Linked DNA regions of Homo sapiens. The protein of the gene in region 4 purifies or fractionates together with the protein of the main gene of each other region. This does not show direct contact. Each region holds a gene or a part of one and is shown on either strand. Other genes may lie near its edges. The genes, in order: IFT172, ARPC1A, DYNC2LI1 and ARL14EP.

Region 1 (3,572 bases), on a different chromosome or scaffold from region 4:
TCAACAATGCCAGAAAGAGAGGCAAACGGCAGGTCCTTATTAGGCTGTGCTCCAAAGTCATCGTCTGGTTTCTAATTGTGATGCTGAAGTATGGTAAATTGGCGATTTTGAAATAATTGATGATCACAGCTAGGAAAATTGCTGTGAACCTCACAGGCAGGCTAAACAAGTGTAGAGTGATCAGCCCCAGATTTGATGTGCAAATCAGAGATCTAGAAAAATGGCAGAATATGCCGGGCGCGGTGGCTCACGCCTGTAATCCCAGCACTTTGGGAGGCCAAGGCAGGTGGATCACAAGGTCAGAAGATTGAGACCAGCCTGGCTAACAGGGTGAAACCCTGTCTCTACTAAAAAAGTACAAAAAAATTAGCCGGGCGTGGTGGCGGGCACCTGTAGTCCCAGCTACTCAGGAGGCTGAGGCAGGAGAATGGCTTGAACCTGGGAGGCGGAGCTTGCAGTGAGCCAAGGTTGCACCACTGCACTCCAGCCTGGGCAACAGAGCGAGACTCTGTCTCAGAAAAAAAACAAAAAAGAAAAATGGCAGAATAATCTGCTCCCATCCTGCCAGTTTGGTTTTATTGTACTGACAACCTCAGTTGGCATCATGGACCATGAAGAAGCAAGACAGCAACATATAGGAGGGAAAATCCTGGGATTCTTTTTCTAGAGATGTAATACATATTTACAAATAAAATGCTTCACGGACTCTGGTGCTTCCAAAAAAAAAGAAAAGTTCGGCCAGGCGCAGTGGCTCACGCCTGTAATCTCAGCACTTTGGGAGGCCAAGGTGGGCAGATCACGAGGTCAAGAGATCAAGACCATCCTGGCCAACATGGTGAAACCCCATCCCTACTAAAAATACAAAAATTAGATGGGCGTGGTGGTGCATGCCTGTAGTCCCAGCTACTCGGGAGGCTGAGGCAGGAGAATCATTTGAACCAGGAGGTGGAGGTTGCAGTGAGCTGATATCGTGCCACTGCACTCCAGCCTGGCGACGGAGTGAGACTCTGTCTCAAAAAAAAAAACAGTTCACTCTGCATTTGACAGAATCACACTTCCATTACCCAGGAGTAAGTTATTGGTTTAGTGCAGTCTGCAGTCCTAGCTTTACAATCTGTTTCCTCTCCACCCTTCTTAGAACAGCCAAAGGTTAAACACTGTTCTGAGCCCCTAGGGAATAGAAGCAGTTAATTTATTCATGCCACTCTATCATGTCCTTCCAAGGATCTTTCTTTCAGTTATACATCAATTTTCTTTCTCTAGATAGTGGCTCTGGCTGGGATGGGGCCCGTGGAGAGAAAGCTTGGGGCCTCACCAATTGTCTGCAGCGTGGTCAACAGCAGCTTCCAGGAGTCCCAGCTTATTAAGCAGTCTAACTGCAGCCTCTCCTCCCAGGCTCTTTGCCCACAGATAGGCCACGTGTTTGTGGGCATTAGCCCCTCCTTGAGTTCTGGCCACCTGTAAAGCAAAGTCACTCAATAATCCTGCAATACAGAGCTTCTCCCTTCTCATCTCTGACCTCGGCTTTGACAAGGATCCAGTAACTGTTCTAAATTGAACAGGAAGAGGCTGGGTGTGGTGGCTCATACCTATAATCCCAGCATTTTGGGAGGCCGAGGCAAGAGGATAACTTGAGGTCAGGAGTTCGAGACCAGCCTGGCCAACATAGTGAAACCCCATCTCTACTAAAAATACAAAAATTAGCTGGGCACGGTGGTGAGTGCCTGTAATCCCAGCTACTCGGGAGGCTGAGGCAGAAAAATTGCTTGAACCCGGGAGGTGGAGGTTGCAGTGAGCCAAGACTGTGCCACTGCACTTCAGCCTGGGTGACAGAGCGAAACTCCATCTCAAAAAATAAAATAAAATAAAAAGTTAACAGGAAGAGGGCTAAATTTCAGGGTTTCTTAACTTAGGTTAAAGTACTTAGGGTCCAAGGATAGGCTTCACCTGGTCCACAGACCCTTAAAATTATAAGTGAAATTTTCTGTATACAGATGTGGACATGGTTCTGGCAAGAGAGACTCTGATCTTCACTACATTTTCAAAGATGCTCTGACCAATTGTGAATTAGTCACTTAAAGTGGGAAAGAAGGGCTGGGCAAGGTGGCTCATAGCTGTAATCCCAACACTTTGGGAGGCCAAGGCAGGTGGATCGCTTGAGCCCAGGAGTTCAAGACCAGCTTGGGCAACATGGTGAAAACTTGTCTCTACAAAAAAATTAAAAAATTAGCCAGCTGTGGTGGTGCACACCTATAGTCCCAGCTACTCAGGAGGTTGAGGTGGGAGGATCGAGTGCTTAAGCCCAGGAGGTCAAGGCTGCAGTGAGCCATAATTGCACCACTGCACTCCAGCCTGGGTGACAGAGTGAGACCCTTTCTGAAAAAAAGGAAAAACGTGGGAAAGAAGGATGGATGTATCCCTCAGTGTGGCCTGAACTCCTTACCCTGTAGGCCTCTTCCCAAAGCCCACTGGCCCGGTACATGTTCACTGTTGCCTTCCATTCCTGGGCCTCGAGGTAGTGGTACTCAGCCTCCTGTAGTCGGCCTTCAGCCTCCAGCTCCTGCAGGAAGGTGAGTCAGGATGGAGAGATGGGGAGATGGAGCCTGGTTGGGGAAGAGATAGGGAGAGCCAGGAGAAGGGCTCACCTTGCCCAGATGTAGGTGTGTATCACTGAGGAGATCTGGATGGTGCTTCCCTACCAGGCGGATCATGTCATCATACAACTTGTGCTTTTTGTACATGGTGATGGCAAGATCAGGCTCTTGTACTGTCACATATAGCCTGGGGAAGGAGATACATCTGGGGCCTCCTAGACCCGACCCCTGCTATCACTGCCTTCTGGGCAGAGGGTACACATCCTCAGACCCCATCCCTCGTCCCAGCCTTGAAATCTCATCTCCCTCTACACCTCCTCTGGGGCCACGGCTCACCTTTCAGCCTCACGGTACTTGCCCTGCTTCTCCATTTCCTGGGCCTGAGTGATGTATAGCACTGACACATCTTCTGGTCTCATGCATTTCATCGCCAGCTGTGGAGGCACAGAGGCAAGGCAGCCTCAGATCCAATTCCCCAGGGAAGCAGGGCTTCAAGGAAACCTGCTTGTTCAGAAACTCTGAACTCTCCCAACAATCACAGGAGTTTGGGTATTGCCACTCTACTAGTGAGGTTGGGGAATTCCAAGTCCATAAGAAGCAGAGGAAGAACTATATTCTGCTAAGGTGGGAAGGTCTGCGATGCCTTGGCTGGGGCATACACTCCCATTACCACGGTAACCACTGGACTCTGAAGTGTAGGCGCAAGAACAAAGTCATCAATGTGACCAGAGGCATTAGGAGTGGTAGTTCAGATTCCCCAGCTCCCAAGCCCATCTGCTCCTTCAGAATGATAGATAGGTCTGGAAACAAGGGCCTCTCTTCATCCCTTCCTTTCCCTATGGCTAGGGATCAAAGTGGCTCAGACTGTTTTTTGGTACTCTTTGTCAGCTTTCAGGGAGCCAAGCGAAGAGGAGAAACAGGTATCAAGGAATGAGGCCACAATGCCACTAAGGCAGAGTTCTCTTATCATGAACTCCA
Region 2 (3,572 bases), on a different chromosome or scaffold from region 4:
AGGCCCATCCAGTTAGATTGATCCACTATTTATAACATGGTGATTACGTGGTGATTGCCAGATTTCTTCAACGTAAAGGCATCTTTTTCTCTTTGTAGTTAATAAGCAATCTGTGGGATGATAATTTGAGACTAGGAATATCCTGTACCCATGGTTTAAGAGTCCATTGACGACCCTGAACAGAATAAATTCCACATTAGTTGTTACAATGCTAGATTTATTCAGATGGTTAAGTTTTGACAATGAGATAGATTTTTTTTTTTTTTTTTGAGACAGAATCTCACTGTGTCGCCCAGGCTGGAGTGCAGTAGCGCGATGTCGGCTCACTGCAAGCTCCACCTCCCAGGTTCGCCATTCTCCTGTCTCGGCCTCCCAAGTAGCTGGGACTACAGGCGCCCGCTACCATGCCCGGCTAATTTTTTGTATTTTTAGTAGAGACGGGGTTTCACCGTGTTAGCCAGGATGGTCTGGATCTCCTGACCTCGTGACCTGCCTGCCTTGGCCTCCCAAAGAAAGTTCTGGGATTAGAGGTGTGACCACCATGCCCGGCCTTTTTTTTTTTGAGACAGAGTCTCGCTCTGTCGCCCAGGCTGGAGTGCAGTGGCATGATCTTGATTCACTGCAACCTCTGCCTCCTGGATGCAAGCAATTCTCCTGCCTCAGCCTCCCGAGTAGCTGGAACTAGAGGCGTGTGCCACCACGCCCAGCTAATTTTTGTATTTTTAGTAGAAACTGGGTTTCACCAGGTTGGCCAGGCTGGTCTTGAACTCCTGACCTTGTGATCCACCTGCCTTGGCCTCCCAAAGTGCTAGTATTACAAGCGTGAGCCACCGTGCCTGGCCAGATTATTTTTTAATGGGAGGACAATGTTTTATTTATTTCCGAACATCTTAAGATCCTCAGGCAACTTAAACATTGGTTACTTGCCTTTTCCCTATTGTATAAAATGCTTTTTGTTATTGTTCATTGCAGCTTTCTCTCCTTTGAAAACACTAAGAATAATGTCACTGCATCAGTTTTTACTAGAGCCAATCACCTGTCATGCCTGGAACAGGGATCGTACTCGTAAGTATTTTATTAACTTTGCTTTTGTATTTTGGTACCTTTGGTACATTTCATCTTTAGACACATTTAGGGCTCACATATCTCAGTATCACATGTGCAAAGAACATACATCTATTATATACATTCAGAAGGGAACTAAGTCAGTCCTTTGGTTTACAGATAGATAAACTGAGGCCCAGAGTGAAGGAAGGGCTTTGCAGAGGTTACATACCAAGTTCACATTTAGTCAGAGCACTAGGACCTAGAATAAGCTGTTTCAGAGACAAGTGGTTTGCTCCTGAGCTACTCAGAGCATTATTAACTAGTATTTACTATGTTATTCTTAGTCAGCTTGAGTTTCTAGTTTTCTAGCTCCAGCAAACTAGAAAGGGATGGAGAATGCTCTTAGAAGTAGGCACAGTTCAGCAAGCAAAGTGACAGATAATATGACAAGATGAGGCTGGGTGCAGTGGCTCCTGCCTGTAATCCCAGCACTTTGGGAGGCCAAGGCAGGCAAATATCTTGAGCTCAAGAGTTCAAGACCAACCTGAGCAACATGGGGAAACCCTGTCTCTACGAAAAAAAATAGAAAAACTGTGTGTGTGTGTACACACACACACACACACACACACACATATATATGTATTTTTTTTTTTTGAGACAGAGTCTCGCTTTGTCACAAGGCTGAGCATGGAGGCTCATGTCTGTAATCCCAGCACTTTGGGAGACCGAGGCGGGCAGATCATTTGAGGTCAGGAGTTCGAGATCAGCCTGGCCAACATGGTGAAACCCCATCTCTACTAAAAATAAAAAAAATTAACCAGGTGTGGTGGTACCTGCCTGTAATCCCAGCTACTCAGGAGGCTGTGGCAGGAAAATCGCTTGAATCCGGGAGGCAGAGGTTGCAGTGATCTGAGATTGTGCCACTGTACTCCAGCCTGGGTGACAGGGCAAGACTCTCTTTCTCAAAAAAAAAAATAATAACAATAATAATTAAATAATAAAAACACAGAAAGAGCAGGATTGGGGAGAAAAAGTCCAATTTCGCTTATTTTTCTTTTGTTGCTTGTACTTCTGCTGTTGTATCAAAGAAACCATTGCATAATCCAGGATCACAACAATGTGTGCCTATGCCTGTGTTTCCTTCTAAGAGTCTTAAAGCTTTAGTCCTTTTATGTAGGACTTTGGTCCATTTTGAGTTAATTTTTGTGTATCCTGTAAGATAGGGTTCCTTTTGTATGTAGATATCCAGTTTTCATTTTTTTCTTCTTTTTTTCTGTGTTTATTTATTTATTTATTTATTGAGACAGAGTCTTGCTCTGTCATCCAAGCTGGAGTGCAGTGGTGCAATCTCGGCTTACTGCAACCTCCGCCTCCCAGGTTCAAGTGATTATCATGTCTGAGCCTCCCAAGAAGCTGTGATTACATGCATGCGCCACCACACCTGGCTAATATTTTTTTTTTTGAGACGCAGTCTCGCTCTGTCGCCCAGGCTGGAGTGCAGTGGCACAATCTTGGCCCACTGCAAGCTCCGCCTCCGGGGTTCACACCATTCTCCTGCCTCAGCCTCCTGAGTAGCTGGGACTACAGGCACCAGCCACCATGCTCGGCTAATTTTTTTTGTATTTTTAGTAGAGACAGGGTTTCACCTGTTAGCCAGGATGGTCTCAATCTCCTGACCTCGTGATCTGCCCGCCTTGGCCTCCCAAAGTGCTGGGATTACAGGTGTAAGCCACTGCGCCCGGCCCACACCTGGCTAATTTTTGTATTTTCAGTAGAGACAGGGATGCGCTATGTCACCCAGACTGGCCTCGAACTCCTGGCCTCCAGCAATCCACCTGCCTTGGCCTCCCGAAGTGCTGGGATATACTTAGTGGGCATGAGCCACCACACCGGCCAAGATAATCGAGTTTTTCCTGCACCTTTTGTTGAAAACTATCCTCTCTGTTTTATTGCCTTGGCCCCCTTTTTGAAAATCAACTGACTGTAAAGATGAGAGTTTATTTCTGGACTCTCAATTCTATTCCATTGTTCTTTATGTTTATCCTAATTTCAGGACCAGTCTGTCTTGATTACTATAGCTTGGTGGTAAGTTTTGAAATCAAGAAGTGTAAGTTCCAACTTTGTTCTTTTCAAGATTATTTTGGTTATTGTGTCGCTTGCATTTCCATATGAATTTTAGGATCAGTTTGTTAATTTCTTTTAAGACGTCAGCTGAGATTTTGACAGAGATTACTTTGAATCTGTAGATTCACCATCTTTTTAAAGCATTTCAGGGCTGGGCGTGGTGGCTCATACCTGTAATCCCAGCACTTTGGGAGGCCAAGGCAGGCAGATCACGAGGTCAGGAGATCAAGACCATCCTGACTAACACAGTGAAACTCCATCTCTATTAAAAATACAAAAAATTAGCCCGGTGTGGTGGCGGGCGCCTGTAGTCCCAGTTACTCGGGAGGCTGAGGCAGGAGAATGGCGTGAACCTGGGAGGCGGAGCTTGCAGTGAGCCGAGATTGTGCCACCGCACTCCA
Region 3 (3,572 bases), on a different chromosome or scaffold from region 4:
AGGTAGAGTAGTTGTTTATAGGTGGCACTGGGGAGCAAGGAGGACCCTAATGTATGTAGGGTAGTGAGAATAAATAGCTTCGTTTAACAAGGCTGCAGAGGAAGGGGTTCAGGGTAAGTCATATTTTAGTTAAGGCCAACATGTGGAGAGAATATTCTGAAAAGGCTGAGATATTGGGGAGTTTGCCAGTCATGGAGCTGAAGTCATAGAGTGGAAGGATTTTAGAGGAAGGGAAGACAGAAGGGGATTATTGGGCCAGATTAAGGGATGTTTACAGAGTTAGGAAATTCAGAGTTCCAGGGATAATGGGTCAGAGGAGAGGGCTGGACATCTGGGGCGATTGAGGCAATGGGAGGGAAGATGGGATTCATTTTGATGGTCTCTAAATGAACTTGTACTAGGTCAATGTTTCTTGAATTAGGAAACCCACAAGACTACAGCCACATGCTCAGGGGACCAGAGTGTACTAATGAATTTTTAAATTTTGGATTGTAATTTTAATGATAATCTAAAACTTGATTTCAGTTCCCAGATTAGTTTATGTTAATTTGGAATTGTTACCATATAGTGCTATACATTTATATGAAATAATAATAAAAGTGATTTAAGGCCAGGCGTGGTGGCTCAAGACTGTAATCCCAGCACTTTGGAAGGCTGAGGTGGGAAGATCACTTGAGGCCAGGAGTTCAAGACCAGCCTGACCAACATAGTGAAACCCCATCTCAACTAAAAAATACAAAAAGTTACCTGCACGTGGTGGTGCATACTGGTAATCCCAGCTACTCCGGAGGCTGAGGCCTAAGAATCACTTGAACCCAGAGGCAGAGGTTTCATGAGCCAAGATGGTGCCACTGCACTCCAGCCTATGCAACAGAGGGAGACTCTGTCTCAAAAAAAAAAACAAAAAAGGCGAGGGGGAGTGATTTAAATCAATGAATACTAGTGTACCATGAAAATTTGAGGAAATTGGCTAGATATTATTTAAAATTCCTTCCAATTCTTATTCTACTTTCTTGCAGAGTACATTACTTTTTGGGTAATGTAGCCCTTATTAATTTAGAACTTTTACAGCATACTACATATGATACAAGTTCATTGTAGGAAAATTAGAAAATCCTGATTTTCTTTTTCTTTTTTTTTTTTTGAGACAGAGTCTCGCTCTGTCGCCTAGGTTCGAGTGCAGTGGTGTGATCTCGGCTCACTGCAGCCTCTGCCTCCTGGGTTCACACCATTCTCCTGCCTCAGCCTCCCAAGTTGCTGGGACTGCAGGTGCCCACGACCACGCCTGGTAATTTTTTTGTATTTTTAGTAGAGTTGGGGTTTCGCCATGTTAGCCAGGATGGTCTTGATATCCTGACCTCGTGATCCACCCGCCTCGGCCTCCCAAAGTGCTGGGATTACAGGCGTGAGCCACCATGCCTGGCAGAAAATCCTGATTTTCTTAAAAACTTTAATTACCTTCAAATCCTTCAGCTAGAAATAATCATTATTAACATAGTGATGTCCCCCTACATTTGTGTGTTTGTTTCTGTCTATGTGTGTGTGTGTGTGTGTGTGTGTACTTCAAGGAAGCAGGAAAAGTATTTTTTAATTGAAAACAGAGACATGCTGATCTATTATGAATGTTTTACTATGTCAGTAAGTATATTTCTACATTGTCATTCATAATAGCTGTATATTATTCTATTATATGGTTTACCATAATTAATTTAGCCAGTAGGGGACATGTAGGTTGTTTTTAGTTTTTCAGTTTGATGTAACACTGGCCAATAAACATCCTTCAATAATATACATTTTTATATTGTACAATTCCAGTTATTTTTTAATATATCTCATTACAAAAAATTTACTCAATTTGATCGTATTCCAGATATAATCTGGAGTAATTATCTTTTTTGTCAAAAACTATAGGTTTTTTTAGTAAAAACAAAAACACATATAATAAGTGTTCTGTGTTTTTGGCAATCCAGAGTTTTCCAAATTATTTTCTTTAGAGCCTGAAGGTTTCCTCCAGTGGAGCTTGTCCTGCTGTTTCTCTTTTATCTGTTTCCTTGCAAGGGGTCTTTTCTTTAAAAAAAAAAAAAAAAAAAGGATTTTACTATTTTTTAAAAATGATATAAACCACTGAGCTAATCCCTGGCTAAGCTGTGAAGTTAAGTTGCCTGACTAGTGGTAGGAATTAGGCCAGAACTTGTATTTCCTTACTCCTAAAAAGAAACTTGGGGTTGGGCATGGTGGCTCACACCTGTAATCCCAGCACTTTGAGAGGCTGAGGTGGGCAGATTAGATGAGGCCAGGAGTTCAAGACCAGCCTAGCCAACATGGCAAAACCTTGTTTCTACTAAAAATACAAAAATTACCCAGGCATGGTGGTGTGCACCTGTAATCCCAGCTACTTGAGAGGGTGAGGCACGAGAATCACTTGAGCCCAGGAGGCAGAGGTTGCAGTGAGCCAAGATCATGCCACTGCACTCCAGCCTTGGCAACAGAGTGAGACTCTGTCTCAAAAATAAAATAAAATAAAATAAAAATAAACAGAAACTTGGAATAAGTACATCCTCTGGACTTAAAACAAATTACTCTAATGCAGTATCTGAATTGCTTACTTTGAACATATTTACAATGTGTCCTTTATTTGTATGTTACCTTTTTCTTTATTTCCACTTCAACAATTGGAATTAAAACATTTTAAAAGACACTAAGCATCGGCTTAACCAGTAATTAACATTGATGAGTAGAGAAAAAATTTAAGACAGCTGCCAAGTTGACCACTTAAGTGAGGTATGATTTGCTAGTATTTGTCATCTGTGGGACTTTATAATTATAATAATAGCAGTGTAGTTACACTGTGATGGAAAGTTGACAGTTAACTTTTTCCACTTATCAAACTTTAGAACAATTCCGAAAGTTTCTAGTTTTTAGTTTCCAGGTAATTTATCATTCAATTGATTAAAAATCTATTTTGGGCCACAATTACGAACAATAATACAATTTTTACATATGAGTGACATTAACGCAGTGTTCCTTCTTTTTTAATTTCCAGGGAAAGACTACTATTATTCTAAGGTGTCTTGACAGGTAAGTGTTATGTTAACCTTTAAACTATATTTATGCTTATTCTAGTTGTATAGGGCAAGTTAGCTCTAAAAGACATAAGGAAGGGGAACGATTTTGAGACCCAAACAAAATATTTAATTCTTAGCAAATCCTTAGTATAACCTTTAAGAGCGCCTTTAAATATAAAACTAACAATAAGCCAAAAATTATATGAGACTAATACTGGATTTCCCTATTTGAGGGAGAAATGTTACCATAATTACCCAACCTACAATAGTATTTACCTTCTTTTTGGCTATGCTACTCTGATATTTAAATTATTTTTGTTCTACCTAATCTACAATTATTTGAACATTCATTGTAAGCTTTAGTTGCTCAGGGGTACATTTTTGAAGCACAGTGTTGGTCCTCAAACTGGATATTTTATCATTTATTTTATATATTTCCTAACGTATACTGTAGAAGCAGGCCATCAGATTAAGATTTAGCAGTATGATTGGTAGATGTTTCAGGAA
Region 4 (2,882 bases):
CATTTTATGAGAATGCAAGGTTTTTATTTTTTACATGTCTGAAATAGAAATGCAGTTCTGTATAGTCAACATAATGAATGGGAGAACTAAATTGTTTAGAATATGACTCTAAAACAAATGTTAATATAATCATTCAGAATTTTTTTTCTAAGTTCAGTCAACATTTCTATATATGCCATGTATTCCATCTGTTAAAATTTACCATTGAGTCATTTAAATATTTTTAGGCCAAATTTACTAGAGTCCATTAAAGAACAAGAAACATTAATTGTAGTATAAAAATCTATAGAGGTGGTATACTATAATAAAAATAAAACTGTGTTGATAAAACAGTGAAGAGGTTGGTAGCTAATAAAGTGAACCACTATTAACCTGTCATTCTTTTTTGTTTGTTTAAAGTAAAGGGAAAATTATGCACTTCAAGAAGCGTATTCAGAATTTTTAGATTTGTCTCAACACTCTATAGAGTTAGGTCTCCTCTTCTCACATGGAGTTCATTTACTGCTGACGATAGAATAAGCCTTGAGCCTGATAAATTATAGATGATTTTGGCATGACCTCATCTAAAAATATTTTATCTCCTTTTTTTTTTTTACTGTATTTTCAATTAAATCAAAAATAACATATTTATGAGGTATAATTCATTGTGTTTTATTTTACAGACAAGTGATACCAGCAAAGAGTAAGGTCTATGATAGCCAGGGTCTCCTGATTTTTAGTGGGATGGACCTCTGTGACTGCCTGGATGAAGACTGCTTAGGATGTTTCTATGCTTGTCCTGCCTGTGGTTCTACCAAGTGTGGAGCTGAATGCCGCTGTGACCGCAAGTGGCTGTATGAGCAAATTGAAATTGAAGGAGGAGAAATAATTCATAATAAACATGCTGGATAATCTGCGGTACCAAACTATGGAGCCTTTAAAGGTCTTTATTTCTAAAAATCTGTTACTCTAAGATACATTTTAAGCTTGATTATCATATGACAAAGATTTTAAAACCATCTCAGTGTGCCCTAATTTTTCATCTTGGGTGCTTTAAGATTCACTATTTGATATAAATTCAGATAGGCTATTTTTCAGTAGTCAGCGTTAAGCCTGTCTGGATCAATATAAACAAGTAGGGTGTAGGCAGTCCTCTATTTGCATGTTTCCCATGGGCACAAATTTCAGTGACCTAGATTTAGTTTAAATACCAGTTTCCTTACCAGGAAGGAAAGAAAACTGGTAAGGAAACTGTTGTTGTTAAAATCTAGGTTAAAATTTTAGTTAGCACATTGTAACTGAGTAATTACATGAAGTACAAACCTCTCTGCTAGCTCTTCAGTCTACAAATCGCTATGTAAATAACAGATATGCTTCATGATTGTGACCAGTCATGTTATTTCTTTCAAATTCTTCCAGTGGTTTGTCCCTGTGCATCTGTTAATTCAGTTCACGTACAGCAGAGCATGTAGTTATGCTGTCTCTCTGTCATCTACTTGACATTCTATAGAAGTGAACACTCGAAAGAACTGGTCAACAAAGATGAAAGTGCAGCAAAGCAATGAAAAATGATAACACTGGAAGTGAAATTTTAATCAAACATAAATGAATTTGTAGAAGAAGTCACTGACCATGGGAATGTTGTTCTTGCTGCTGTGTATTCATAGGAGCTTAGTGAAGGCAAACTTACCAACACAAATAAGCAAAGTGGTTGCAATAAAGACAGATACGTCCCAGAGGAAGTGATGGTTAAAAAAAAAAAACTTTACATTAAAAGATATTTAATGTGAATATAGAAATATTTCACAACATTGAAAGCACAAGCAATAAAAGGGTGGAAGCTGACCCAAACTTAGAAGGAGTATGGCAGTTTGCCGTGAACATAAAAGATGCTTACTCAGTATGGTAAGTTACTTGCCAGAAAAAAAGGCAAGCCCTATTCAAACTACTTTGTTTTTACAATGAAATAAAACACTTTAATTCTATTTCTAATGTTTTAAATTACAGTGTACTAAATATTTTTAAACATTTTTGCATTTTTTTCTACATTTATAACTGGTCTTAAGAGTTTTTAATATTTGAGCAGAACCTTAAAGGTCATGGAACAATCATCATTTTCCCTATTGATTATTAAGATTGCAGGACCATTTTTATGGTCCCACAGTACCATGTGAAATGAGGATCGCTTGTAGCTGGGAACAGTGCTTACTTCAGGGAAAACTGATTTTGATAGAACCGACTAGTTGAGTATTAAACTGTTTTGGAAATAATTTATATATCTAAGTGCTGAAATATATTTCTCTTCTCCCCACTTATTCAAATAAAAAAGTTTTAATACTATAAACTTTTCATTGTTAGCGCCACGCAGTCCTTGTCAAGATTGTTCTGGGGGACAAAAACTTGATGTATAAAGCATGAATATACACACAGTACTTAAACAGATACCATATCTGTGGTATTAAAATTTTGGGGGTGGTTGATTAGGATTGTAAAAAGACTCCTTAGGGAGTGAGGATGGAAAAGAGAAACACTGGTTAATACAGAGTATAAATAAATTTTTTGGAAATTGATTGCATCTTGATGTTGGAATTTGCTTGGATGCTATTTGGAGGATGGGGGAATGGTATCGTCTCTTTGCTTTTATTTTATTTTTTTTTGAGACAGTCTTACTCTGTTGCCCAGGCTAGAGTGCAGTGGCTCAATCTCGGCTCGCTGCAATCTCCATCTCCTGGGTTCAAGTGATTCTCCTGCTTCAGCCTCCTGAGTAGCGGGGACTGCAGGCGCGTGCCACCACGCCCAGCTTATTTTTTTGTATTTTTAGTAGAGACGGGGTTTCACCATATTAGCCAGGATGGTCTTGATCTCCTGACCTCATGATCTGCCCTCCTTGGTCTTTGCACTTT

Evidence for each region.
Region 1: the proteins of ARL14EP (region 4) and IFT172 fractionate together in Homo sapiens (co-fractionation; one large-scale study listed by BioGRID). This does not show direct contact.
Region 2: the proteins of ARL14EP (region 4) and ARPC1A purify together in Homo sapiens (affinity purification with mass spectrometry; one large-scale study listed by BioGRID and IntAct). This does not show direct contact.
Region 3: the proteins of ARL14EP (region 4) and DYNC2LI1 purify together in Homo sapiens (affinity purification with mass spectrometry; one large-scale study listed by BioGRID and IntAct). This does not show direct contact.

The regions. Positions count from the first base shown.
Region 1 is NC_000002.12:27,455,196-27,458,767, forward strand, and holds part of IFT172 (intraflagellar transport protein 172 homolog), read right to left. Parts: intron 3,029-3,572; coding exon 2,931-3,028; intron 2,782-2,930; coding exon 2,646-2,781; intron 2,561-2,645; coding exon 2,444-2,560; intron 1,459-2,443; coding exon 1,316-1,458; intron 1-1,315. UniProt on the Homo sapiens protein: Required for the maintenance and formation of cilia. Plays an indirect role in hedgehog (Hh) signaling, cilia being required for all activity of the hedgehog pathway.
Region 2 is NC_000007.14:99,332,353-99,335,924, forward strand, and holds part of ARPC1A (actin-related protein 2/3 complex subunit 1A), read left to right. Parts: intron 1-972; 5' UTR 973-1,001; coding exon 1,002-1,065; intron 1,066-3,572. UniProt on the Homo sapiens protein: Probably functions as a component of the Arp2/3 complex which is involved in regulation of actin polymerization and together with an activating nucleation-promoting factor (NPF) mediates the formation of branched actin networks.
Region 3 is NC_000002.12:43,780,477-43,784,048, forward strand, and holds part of DYNC2LI1 (cytoplasmic dynein 2 light intermediate chain 1), read left to right. Parts: intron 1-3,043; coding exon 3,044-3,078; intron 3,079-3,572. UniProt on the Homo sapiens protein: Acts as one of several non-catalytic accessory components of the cytoplasmic dynein 2 complex (dynein-2 complex), a motor protein complex that drives the movement of cargos along microtubules within cilia and flagella in concert with the intraflagellar transport (IFT) system, facilitating the assembly of these organelles.
Region 4 is NC_000011.10:30,335,905-30,338,786, forward strand, and holds the end of ARL14EP (ARL14 effector protein), read left to right. Parts: intron 1-662; coding exon 663-891; 3' UTR 892-2,319; downstream 2,320-2,882.